Regions from separate parts of the Homo sapiens genome. Here region 2 is linked to region 1. The links come from fine-mapping of genetic effects on gene expression. A gene starts in region 1. The other region holds a variant in brackets. All regions are shown on one strand. Distances are between the middles of the regions.

Region 1 (5,379 bases):
CCTGTAATCCCAGCACTTTGGGGGGCCAAGGTGGGCAGATCACCTGAGGTCAGGAGTTCGAGACCAGCCTGACCAACATGGCGAAACCTCAGCTGTCCTAAAAATATACAAATTAGCTGGGTGTGGTGGCAGGTGCCTGCAATCCCAGCTACTCGGGAGGCTGAGGCAGGAGAATCATTTGAACTTAGGAGGTGGAGGTTGCAGTGAGCCAAGATTGCGTCACTGTACTCTAGCCTGGGCAACCGAGCGAGACTCAGTCTCCAAAAAACAAAATAAAACAAAAAACAAAACAAAACAGAAGTTCAGATATAAACAAATGACCCCTCAAAAGGAATTGATTAAAAAAATTTTAAACAAAGTATGGTTTAAAAAAGAAACTTCTCCACTGTGGCTAAGTCCATATTTCACATGTTACTGTATCCTCCTCATCTTGCTGCTATTTTTCTGAGTATCTCATGATAGTGAGTACTGAAATGCTGGCATTCTCACATTAGGGTCTTTATTCTTAGGATCTGCCTTTGCACTCGTTCAGTTACAGAGCTGTTATGAAATAAACCACTCAAGTGGCCTTGCTTCCCTCCCACTATGCTCTACATAACATGTCTGTCAATCAGTACTTACTACCAAAATAACTTGCCTTTGAGATTTTTCTGTTCTGCAATCTGTCCCATGCTTGTAAGGGGAAGGATTATATTCTGCTCCCTGGGGAGTAGTGCCTGGTGCAAAATTAGCTTCCTCATTAGGGTACAAGCTGAAAACACCATGATACTTTCCATGTAACACCATTCAACATTTTCCCTTCGCTCCCACTCCCCAACCATAGAATTTTAGGGACTCCTTTAACCATTTCAAAACCATCGACTTGGGAGCTATCAAAGAATAAGGACTGTAGCCAGAGGATTTCAGCATTTAAAAACTTGGCAATAGAGCTGTTCAGTGTAATGATCCAAGAAGGTCCTTAGAAGGCTGAATAATTCTGAGGTCAAGGTTGAGACGTTATTATTTTTAAAGTAGCAAGATGTTGTTATTTTTAAATTTTATCTTTATAATGTGGAAATAGCAGAGATCCTTTTCAGATATAACCAGGATTTAAGAAAATTTGACAAAGTTGCATTAATAAAAAGAAAGCCTGTTATTAAGGAGCTACAGGGCCGGGTGCGGTGGCTCATGCCTGTAATCCCAGCACTTTGGGAGGTTGAGGCGGGCGGATCATCTGAGTTCAGGAGTTCAAGACCAGCCTGGCCGACATGGTGAAACCCCATCTCTACTAAAAATACAAAAAAAATTAGCCAGGCATGGTGGCAGGTACCTGTAATCCCAGCTACTTGGGAGGCTGAAGCAAGAGAATCACTTGTACTCGGGAGACGGAGGTTGCAGTGAGCCAAGATCATGCCATTGCACTCCAGCCTGGGCAAGAAGAGTGAAACTCCGTCTCAAAAAAAAAAAGGAGTTATGGATAGAAAATTACTTCCTTTAACTCATTCGACAAATATTTACTGAGCATTTTCTGTCACCTTGACACTTTGCTGATTCTTCTTTTCTATTTCAATAAAAATGTTGGGCAATTATAACCAAGGAAAAGGTTTTAAGAAAGTAAATTTTAAGCAAGGTTTAGATATAAAGAAGCAAAGAGATGGAAAAGGATGCCGTTTCACATTGCAGAAAAAGTTTAAATTTTAGAACCCCAAATTGAATCTCTCCTTGACACTCTCCTCTTGGTATTCCAGGGATTAATGCTAGGAACATCCCAGTGAGCCAACATTTCCCTCCTCATCTTGGATCCAGTCCCCAAACTCTGAATGGTGCCACTTAGCAAGTAGCAATGTCTCTAATTTTCTGTAAAAGATGCAACGTTGGCAATCCATTTTCTAGCAAGAGCAAAGAGAAAGGAAGAGGCCTTCACAAGTTGCAGTTGATATAGGGGGAAGGGTGAGTGGTACATTTAAAGGTAAGAACTAAGGAAGTTGAAGGTAACAAAACTCAAGGTCAATGGAAAGTCTTAAATCCCAGAAAGCCTTCAGTCTAAGACTCAACAGAAATTGAAGTCCCAGAAATTGAAGGAACTGGTTCCACCTCATGCTGGACTGTGGCAAACCTGGGGTGAGAATGCATCCCAGCTCAGAATGTTTCTTCTTTTTTTGTCAAGAGTAATATTAGAGGCTGAGTGTATGAACAAAGCATCTTTCCTGGGATTTTAACATTGTGAGTGATCGAGGGTGCTCTTAAATAAGTTCCCCCAAGAAGCCCTAATGTTCCTCTGGATGCATGATTATACTAAGAGAATAAGAGTTTTCCTTAAGATCAGCTTGCTGATGGACCATATCAAGAACTATAAATTTTCTTATGTGAACACAAGTGTTCAGGGGGGATATTGTTAAAACTGAAACCAAGCATAAAGAAGCAAAAGTGTTTCAGTGAACCTCCTGCATTTTAGTTCAACTCTGGCAGCAAGAAAACAAAACCACATAATCTAAGGCTCACGCCCAACTCTCCGAAGCCCCATATGTGCTAGTTCCTGTGTGGTTTGCCTACAGACTGCAGGGCTGACTAGGGTTAGTTTGGAGGAGGGAGTAAGAGGTGGGGAGGAGGAGGCACAGTTAATGGATCTGTAAACTTGCACCCTCTTTCAGAGTGGTACATGGAAGACAGCACAAAGTGGATCCATACTCTGAAATGCAGTAACTCTGATGCTTGAATTTGTCTCCCTTCTTGCCAGAAAGGATTCTAATAACTCGGTGTCAAAGCCAAGACATAAACTCAACCCCTTCTCTTCCAAAAGGTATGTCATTATACAACATCTGTACATATACTCTAGAAACTTTGAACAGTTTTATAATTTGCAGAATGTTCTGTATGAGTTAATTAAAATGAATCTCACTAGTTCTCTAAATATTGCTTTTAAGTCCCATCAGCTAAGGTCTCTAAACCTTTTGCTGTGACAATGTTTGTGGTGATGGGATTTGACTTCTATCAAATGAACTGGGAGAACACTTGTTCCTTACCCAGTCCATAACACAAAAATCTCCACAAACTGGCTTCAGAAGCATCTCAGGGAAAGATTTTCGACCTTGGGATCATGGAGGTAAAATTCCACTTCACCATGGTCAGAATTTAATCCAAATTGGAAGGGATTGGAGGGGGTGGTAGAGGGCTGAGCAGTGATGAATGAACACTAGCACTCTGAGGTCAGGATTTCTCTCTTTGCTTGAATTTCTAGTTCTGTTCGCATTTTTGTTACCTGTACAAAGGACACCAGTTTTCATTCCTTTACGAAAAGAAAACTTTATGTTGAAGTGTATTTTGGAAGGGTATTGTCTCTCTTCGTACTAGCCGTTAGGCTCCATCCCTATGACTGTCTCTGGTTTAGGCGTCCAGTCTGAAGATAGCTGCTTTGTGTTCTTTGTCCCAACTCTTCCTGAACGTGAGGATTGAACATACCAACCAAAGGTTTCACTAATTTAAAATGTACTGTATTGCCCTGACAGGTATACTGTCAAAAAAAATTTACCGTATTTATCTACCTGGAATTAGGCCTTCTTAATAAAGTGTATGCAGCATAATTTGCACACTATTGAACATACACATCCCTAGATAAACTAGGAGTGGGAAGTGTTTTAGATCTAAACATCCAATGGGAAAAATTTCGTGTGTTCTCGTTATGTTATCTGAGGATGGGAAACTTCAGGTCGCAGAATCTTTTGTTCTATGCAGCAATGTTTGTCATAAACGGTTTAGTTCTTTAGTGGCTCCTTTTTGTTTCTTATTTTTGGTTTCGGAAAGAGTATTTAGCAGAAGTTACTCTCCTTTAACAATCCAGTATTTTATGTAAAACTTTATAGAATAATTTTATAGTGATTCTCTTTACAAAACCATCTGCTATTAAATAAGGAACACTGTGTAAATAGAGGACCACCTAAGTATATTTAATTTTCAAATACGAAAAAAATCTGACTCATACCCTTTTTTGTTTTTTTGTAAAAGAGAGGTGGCCCTATATTATTGAATAAAACTGCTTTTTTAGATTGAACTTGGAGTGTCTCCCATGTGGTAAACTGAAATCTTATTCTCCCCAAATTGTAATAGATTTTATCTTTTTAAAAATGACTTTACTGAAGCAGAGGAGAAGGAGATGATCAATCTATTCAATATGAAGAAATATCTCTGTTGCTAATACAATATCCTTTTGAATATCTCCCACATCTTAGGCCCTGGTGAAAATCCCTTTCAATTGTTCTGTCTACCTCGTAGGGATGTTGTAAGAATAAATGAGTTAACATAGATATGAAGTGCCTTAGGAAAAAGGCTCTATAAAAATGCAAGGCGATATCATGATTAGTTGTTTCTTTGACTCTTGATCATTTTCTTCCCACTTCTTATACAAAATGTCTCTCACTTATTTCCTGAAGCCATCTCTTTTAGAACTATTGCTTCCTAGAAGAGCTGAAAATGATCCTAGTTCCAACATATTTATTGATTCCCAGATAATAACACCCACTGGTGTTGATGACTGACAGGGTTCATGCCTAAGCTTGAGTAGAACTTGCCCTTTTTTCCTGGGTCAAGAAAAGTCTGCAATTGTTCGAAAATGTGTCAGTAAGTGTGATTCCATCACGATTTCTTAAATAAGTAACAGTTGCTGCTGGATAATCCTGGGGGCAGATGATTCATTTTTGTGCCCCTATCAAACAAACTCAAAACTTGTTAAAGAATCTTTATAAGTTGTTTGAATCAAACAATAGGGTCGCTAGGTCCCCATTTTGTCCATTTGAGGTATTTGCCCAGCATACCTTGGTCTGTAAAGAAATAGCACAGCCTTGGCTGGGCGCGGTGGCTCATGCTTATAATCCTAGCACTTTGGGAGGCCGAGGTGGGCAGATCTCCAAAAATAAATAATAATAATGATAATAACACAGCCTCATGAGTCTTTTTTTTTTTTTTTTTTTTGAGACAGGGTCTCACTCTGTCACTCAGGCTGGAGTACAGTGGCACAATCACAGCTCACTGCAGCCTCAACTACCCTGGGTTTAGTGATCCTCCCACCTCAGCCTCTCAAGTAGCTGAGACTACAGGTACACACCACCACACCTGGCTAATATTGTATTTTTAGTAGAGACAGGGTTTTGCCATGTTTCCCAGGCTGGTCTTGAACTCCTGAACTCAAGCGATTCGCCTGCCTCAGCCTCCCAAAGTGTTGGGATTACAGGTGTGAACCACTACACCTGGCCTGCCCTTTCTTTTCTCTTAAAAATTCTTAAGAAAGCATGGTCCTGTTTAACAAATAAGCATTTTACAAACATTTATCGATCAATTACTATATGCCAGGCCTGGCACTAGGCACCAAGTCCTCTTCAACAGTGTTAACATTAAGTTTCAATAAAC
Region 2 (5,379 bases), 68 kb after region 1:
ATTAAACACTAAGAACATGTTAACTTGCCTCCCATAAGTAAATTCACACATGCACACACTCACACACACACACACACACCAATTTATGAACTATTTTTCAAAGGAAATAACATGGTTATAAGAGACAGGTATCATAGGAAGAAGCATTCACTAGAATAGCTGAAATCCTAGGGACAGGTTATTTGAAAAGATATTGAGACTGTGAAAGCAATGTGTGCTTTGGGGAAGTCAAGAAAATCCTCCTTTTTCGAGTCCCTAGTTGCTTTTAAGCCTGAGAAGTTACTGCCAAAGGAGAAAAGAAGTTACCACCAAATGCACACAGAAGTTCAGAAAGGAAAACAAAGGCTAGCCAAGACCTTGTGAATCACTCTAACCAGGAAACGGACAGAGGTATTAACTCACTAGGATGGGCATTCAGAGAAGCAATATAAAATTGCATTAAATGGGATTAAATGAGTTGATATTTGTAAAGCGCTTAGAACAGTGCCTGGTATATGCTGCCCTCAGGGTCCTACATAATTGTTTGTTAAATGAAACTAACAATACGGTATTTCTGATTTGTAAGGTTGTTGTAACATTAGGGAAAAAGGCCTTACTTCTTCCCCCACGTCCAGCCCGGCGGCAGGCCTGGTTCCCATGGTGTTGCAAGAATGTTGCTGTTTGGGTCTCTATCACCAGGCTGTAAATGACAGTTCAAAATCATGCAAAGTCAACAGTGGAGCTTATCTGGAGGGTAGATTGTCCAGTGGTGTGGCAACATGTGATAAGAAGGGGTGGCATTGTATCAGTAAAATGGAATATTTCAGCTTGATTACACAGAGAAAAAACGAGCGCCCTGGAAATGGACTAAATGGCTACCAGGCAAAAAGTGTTAGTCTGTGAACCAGAGACCTGCACTCCTAAAACTGGGAGGATCTGAGAATGCAGAGGCCACTTTGGAAAATGTGAAGGTCTAAAGCATCAATTATCTTTTAGCTGCCCCCACCCCACCAGCTATTTCTTGGAGCCAGATGAGCAGGGTCTGGGAACAACTGCCCGAGGGTAGGGTAGGGCCAGACGATCAGAGAGGAGGATGCATCTGCAGCATCTCTGTTCTTTCTCCCAGGGTCACCGGGGCAACAGCCTGGACCGGAGGTCCCAGGGAGGCCCACACCTCAGTGGGGCTGTGGGAGAAGAAATCCGACCTTCGATGAACCGGAAGCTGTCGGATCACCCCCCGACCCTTCCCCTGCAGCAGCACCAGCACCAGCCACAGCCTCCGCAATATGCCCCAGCGCCCCAGCAGCTGCAGCAGCCCCCACAGCAGCGATATCTGCAGCACCACCATTTCCACCAGGTATCTGGAAAGAAGGCAGTGGGCACAGTACGGTGGAAAGGAGAACCTGCCTCCCCTCCAGGCCTGGCCCAGCCTCTTGAGTTCTCAGAGAGTTCATGATGAAGACCCTGGACCCCCCCAAATGGCAGAAATAGGGAAACTGTTCTTGGCAAAGACATCTCTATGAATTAAATGGCTCCCACCTGAACACACACACACACACACACACTGTCTCACACACACACACACACTTAAACTCACACACACACACACTTCCCCTGAGGACCCAGTAAACAATTGCTTCATTTTCCTATCAGCACAATTCCAAATCTATTCATGCCCCTTAGCCCATCTGGCTGTCAGATCCACAAGAGAAAAAGGCTTAATACCCACAACAGAGCCTTGTTTATTACTTATTTATCTCCCTCCACCCTTGTTCCCGATGGGATTTCAGGCGGCTTACTGAGATGGACAATACGGCCAGATAACATCATTCCTGAATTCCTTAGCAGGGCACACAAAGTCCTTTGTGAGCTGCCAGAATCTATTTCCCCAGCCTCGTCCCTGCTGCCTCCCTGCCAACTCCCCGTGCAAACACACATTCCAGCAACCCCCCACGCTGCCTTAGTTACCCGAATGGTCCATTGCGTTTCCTCTCATGCCTTTGTGGCGTTTTATATGCTGATCTCTCTGCCTGATGAGCCCCTCCCTGGGCAGTCCTACCCCTCTAAGCTGGAGTTCAAGCATGACCTCCTCTGTGAAGCCTTCCTTGATTTCCCGGGCAGATACAGACATTTCTTCTCTCTGCTCACTTACCACTTAAATGTGCATGGTTCCCCCTCTAAATGGAAGCTCCATGAAGCCAGAGACCTTCTCTTTCCAGCTATATTTCCCTTGTGTCTGCTACTGGAAACATGGTAGGTGCCTGATAAATATTTCTTGACTGAATAAATAAAACCTGCCTTTG[C/T]CTTCTTTGCCTTCAGAATCTAAGGTGCCTTTAGACCTTAGGTCCTCCTCAACGTGGAGGGTTTATTGTCATTATCAGTAAGTATTCCTGGAATATACCGGCTCTGTGGATGGCATCTGAGCAAGGCACTGGGGGAACCGGTGGGAGATGTCCTGGCAGTGGGGTGACCAGTCTTCTGTTGTATGTTTCTAGGAACGCCGAGGAGGCAGCCTTGACATAAATGATGGGCATTGTGGCACCGGCTTGGGCAGTGAAATGAATGCGGCCCTCATGCATCGGAGACACACAGACCCAGTGCAGCTCCAGGCGGCAGGGGTATGGGAACTGTCCTTCTCTGGGATCCCTGGGGAAAGGCCTTGGGACAGAGGTCAATGGAGGAGATGAGGCAGGAGAGACTCAAACCACACAGATCTGGCTGGGCACGGTGGCTCACACCTGTAATCCCAACACTTTGGGAGGCCAAGGCAGGTGGATCACCTGAGGTCAGGAGTTCGAGACCAGCCTGGCCAACATGGTGAAACCTCACGTCTACTAAAAATACAAAAATTAGCCAGGCATGGTGGCAGATGCCAGTAATCCCAGCTACTTGGGAGGCTGAGGCAGGAGAATTGCTTGAACCCAGGAGGCAGAGGTTGCAGTGAGCCGAGATTGCGCCATTTTACTCCATCCTGGGCAACAAGAGCGAAACTCCGTCTCAAAAAACAAAACAAAACAAAACAAAAATGCACACACAGATCAACGAGAGGTGATGGAATGTTTGGGGAGGCCTGGGGCTGAGCCAGCACCGTCCAGTCTGTTGATCTCAGTCTGGTGCCAGGCCTTCCCTGTTCTCATAGTTCTCAGTTCTAGTTCTTTATCATCTTTATCATAGTCCTTTACCATTGCCTTTATCATTGCATCTTTTTTTTGTTTTTTGAGACAGGGTCTCACTCTGTCTCCCAGGCTCAAGTGCAGTGGCACAATCATGGCTCACTGCAGATTCAAACTCCTAGGCTCAAGCGATCCTCCTGCCTCTGCTTCCCAAGTAGCTAGGTATATTATTTGTAGCGATAAGCTCTTGCTATATTGCCCAGGCTGGTCTGGAACTCCTGGGCTCAAGCAATCCTCCTACCTCAGCCTCCCACAGTGCTGGGATTACAGGCATGAGCCACCGTGCCTGGCCTGTGATCCATCTTGACTTGTGACTTGATTGCCCTAACACCAAGGGCTGTTGTTTGGGGCATGTTGCCCTTCTGTTTGTCACTCAAGATAAAAATACCACCTATTGATGTGGAGAGAGTGGTTCTCAGGGAGTCTATTGGGGCTTTGGACAATAACATCTGTTGGTAAAAGTCCTGGGTCTCCAGAGTGACGCTGGTGCGTTCTGGGAACTTCTTGCTCAGGCCTGTGCATAGGTATCTGATTTAAATTGCAGCAGGGTAGCCGGGCATGGTGGCTCACACCTGTAGTTCCAGCTACTTGGGAGGCCAAGGCAGGAGGACTTCTTGAGGCCAAGGGTTCAAAACCAGCCTGAGCAACATAGCAAGACCCCATCTCTACAAAAAAAGTTTTTTTAAGCTGCAGAGGGGTCAGCCTTCAGGGAATGTTGCTCTCAAAGACTTGGATGTGGTGGGAGGAGCCAGCAGACCCTCCCCTGCCTGCCCAGCCCACAGCTCAGCAGAGCCTCTTCTGTGCTTCCCCCAACAGCGAGTGCGGTGGGCCCGGGCGCTGTATGACTTTGAGGCCCTGGAGGATGACGAGCTGGGGTTCCACAGCGGGGAGGTGGTGGAGGTCCTGGATAGCTCCAACCCATCCTGGTGGACCGGCCGCCTGCACAACAAGCTGGGCCTCTTCCCTGCCAACTACGTGGCACCCATGACCCGATAAACTCTTCAGGGGACAGAAGCTTTTTGTCTGGAGCTGCCCACAAGAAAGAGGGCAAGGAAAAAAGGCTGGACTCCATGACTATATATACATACATCTATCTACATCTGCCTGTGTACACACACAACTTTTTATACTAGTAATTTATTGGCAATTGGGCTGGTAATTAGTTGATGCAAAAGGGAACTCAGGTGGAGAATAATATTGACACTTGCTTTTCTGCCCCCCTCAGGGGTGTGTGGAAGGCAGTGGGGGAGTTGGGAGGGGGGCAGGGAAATGAAATGGAGTTTTGTCCTGGCCTTCAGCTGTCACTGCTTCCTCCTTGTCTTGGGAATTTTCACGGAGAACAGCTAAGCAGAGACCACACCTCGGCACTGGACACAGAACAACAGGGTGGGGTTGAACTTGGTGGGGCACGTTCTAGCTGACCTGCAAGCCCCGCTCACCTGGAGGGCTTGCAGAGCAGCTCTCCTCCTGTTCTCCAAGGGGTGGGCACTGTTGCATTAGGAATTAAGGTGCAGCCCAGTGCTGCGGGCAGCCAAGCGAGTCTGAGCGGGGATGTGAAGGCAGGACGGGGTTGGAGAGACCCTGCCTGTGCAAGGCTGGCCTCCTAGTCAACACCTAGCTGAGACATTCATCTCTGTTCAAATTAATATTCCTTGGGTCTTTCAAATGAATGTTTCAATGTGAGGAGCGAAGTACTGGGAAATCGAGGGATTTTCCACAATCCCCAAGCAGCTTACTCAGTGGAACCTCTGTTTCCCCAGCTATGAAGGAAATAGCATCCTACATTCCGTAAAGTGCTTGAAGAAGCTCTAGCTGAGAATGCTGAATTTTACAGTCATTGTTTTATGGTTACAAGGGTATGTCTTCAGGGCTCTGTTCATTTTCCCTCTTGATTTTCTCTTTTGAAGATGCCTTGCCCAGTGGCATGGAAAGAAGCCCACTTGATGATAGGAGCCTGACTATGAATTGATTGACTAAACATGACCCCAGGTGGAAGCTGGCTTTGACACCAGCTTCCTGTTCAGTCTGACCACTGCTGTCCTCCTGCTGCCCAAGAGTTGCACCTGGAGCAAGGAACCCCACCATGGCTGTCGCTCTCCATCCCATCACGCTAGAATCATGTGTCCAAGGGCTCACTCTGGAGGTGCACAGCACAGGTCAGCCTGGCCAGGGGCGAAGGAGACAGTAGAGAGGAAGCTCAGGGCCTTAGGGGAGGCCGGGTGCAAAC

What was found. PIP is the estimated chance that this variant, and not a neighbour inherited with it, causes the effect. A credible set is the group of variants that fine-mapping cannot tell apart.
Region 2: its variant is the best candidate, but not a certain one, in a credible set for the expression of GRAP2 in whole blood (TOPMed, PIP 0.86).

The regions. Positions count from the first base shown.
Region 1 is chr22:39,898,552-39,903,930 of GRCh38, forward strand. It overlaps GRAP2 (GRB2 related adaptor protein 2), which reads left to right and starts at 2,533. Exons shown (of 8, transcript NM_004810.4): 1 at 2,533-2,779.
Region 2 is chr22:39,966,937-39,972,315 of GRCh38, forward strand. GRAP2 (GRB2 related adaptor protein 2) reads left to right here. Exons shown (of 8, transcript NM_004810.4): 6 at 1,106-1,336; 7 at 2,475-2,597; 8 at 3,969-5,379. The coding sequence ends at 4,148. Among named protein-coding and RNA genes, the nearest start is that of TMA7B, 9.2 kb to the left of the region's middle. The variant C/T (reference allele first, on the strand shown) is at 2,283.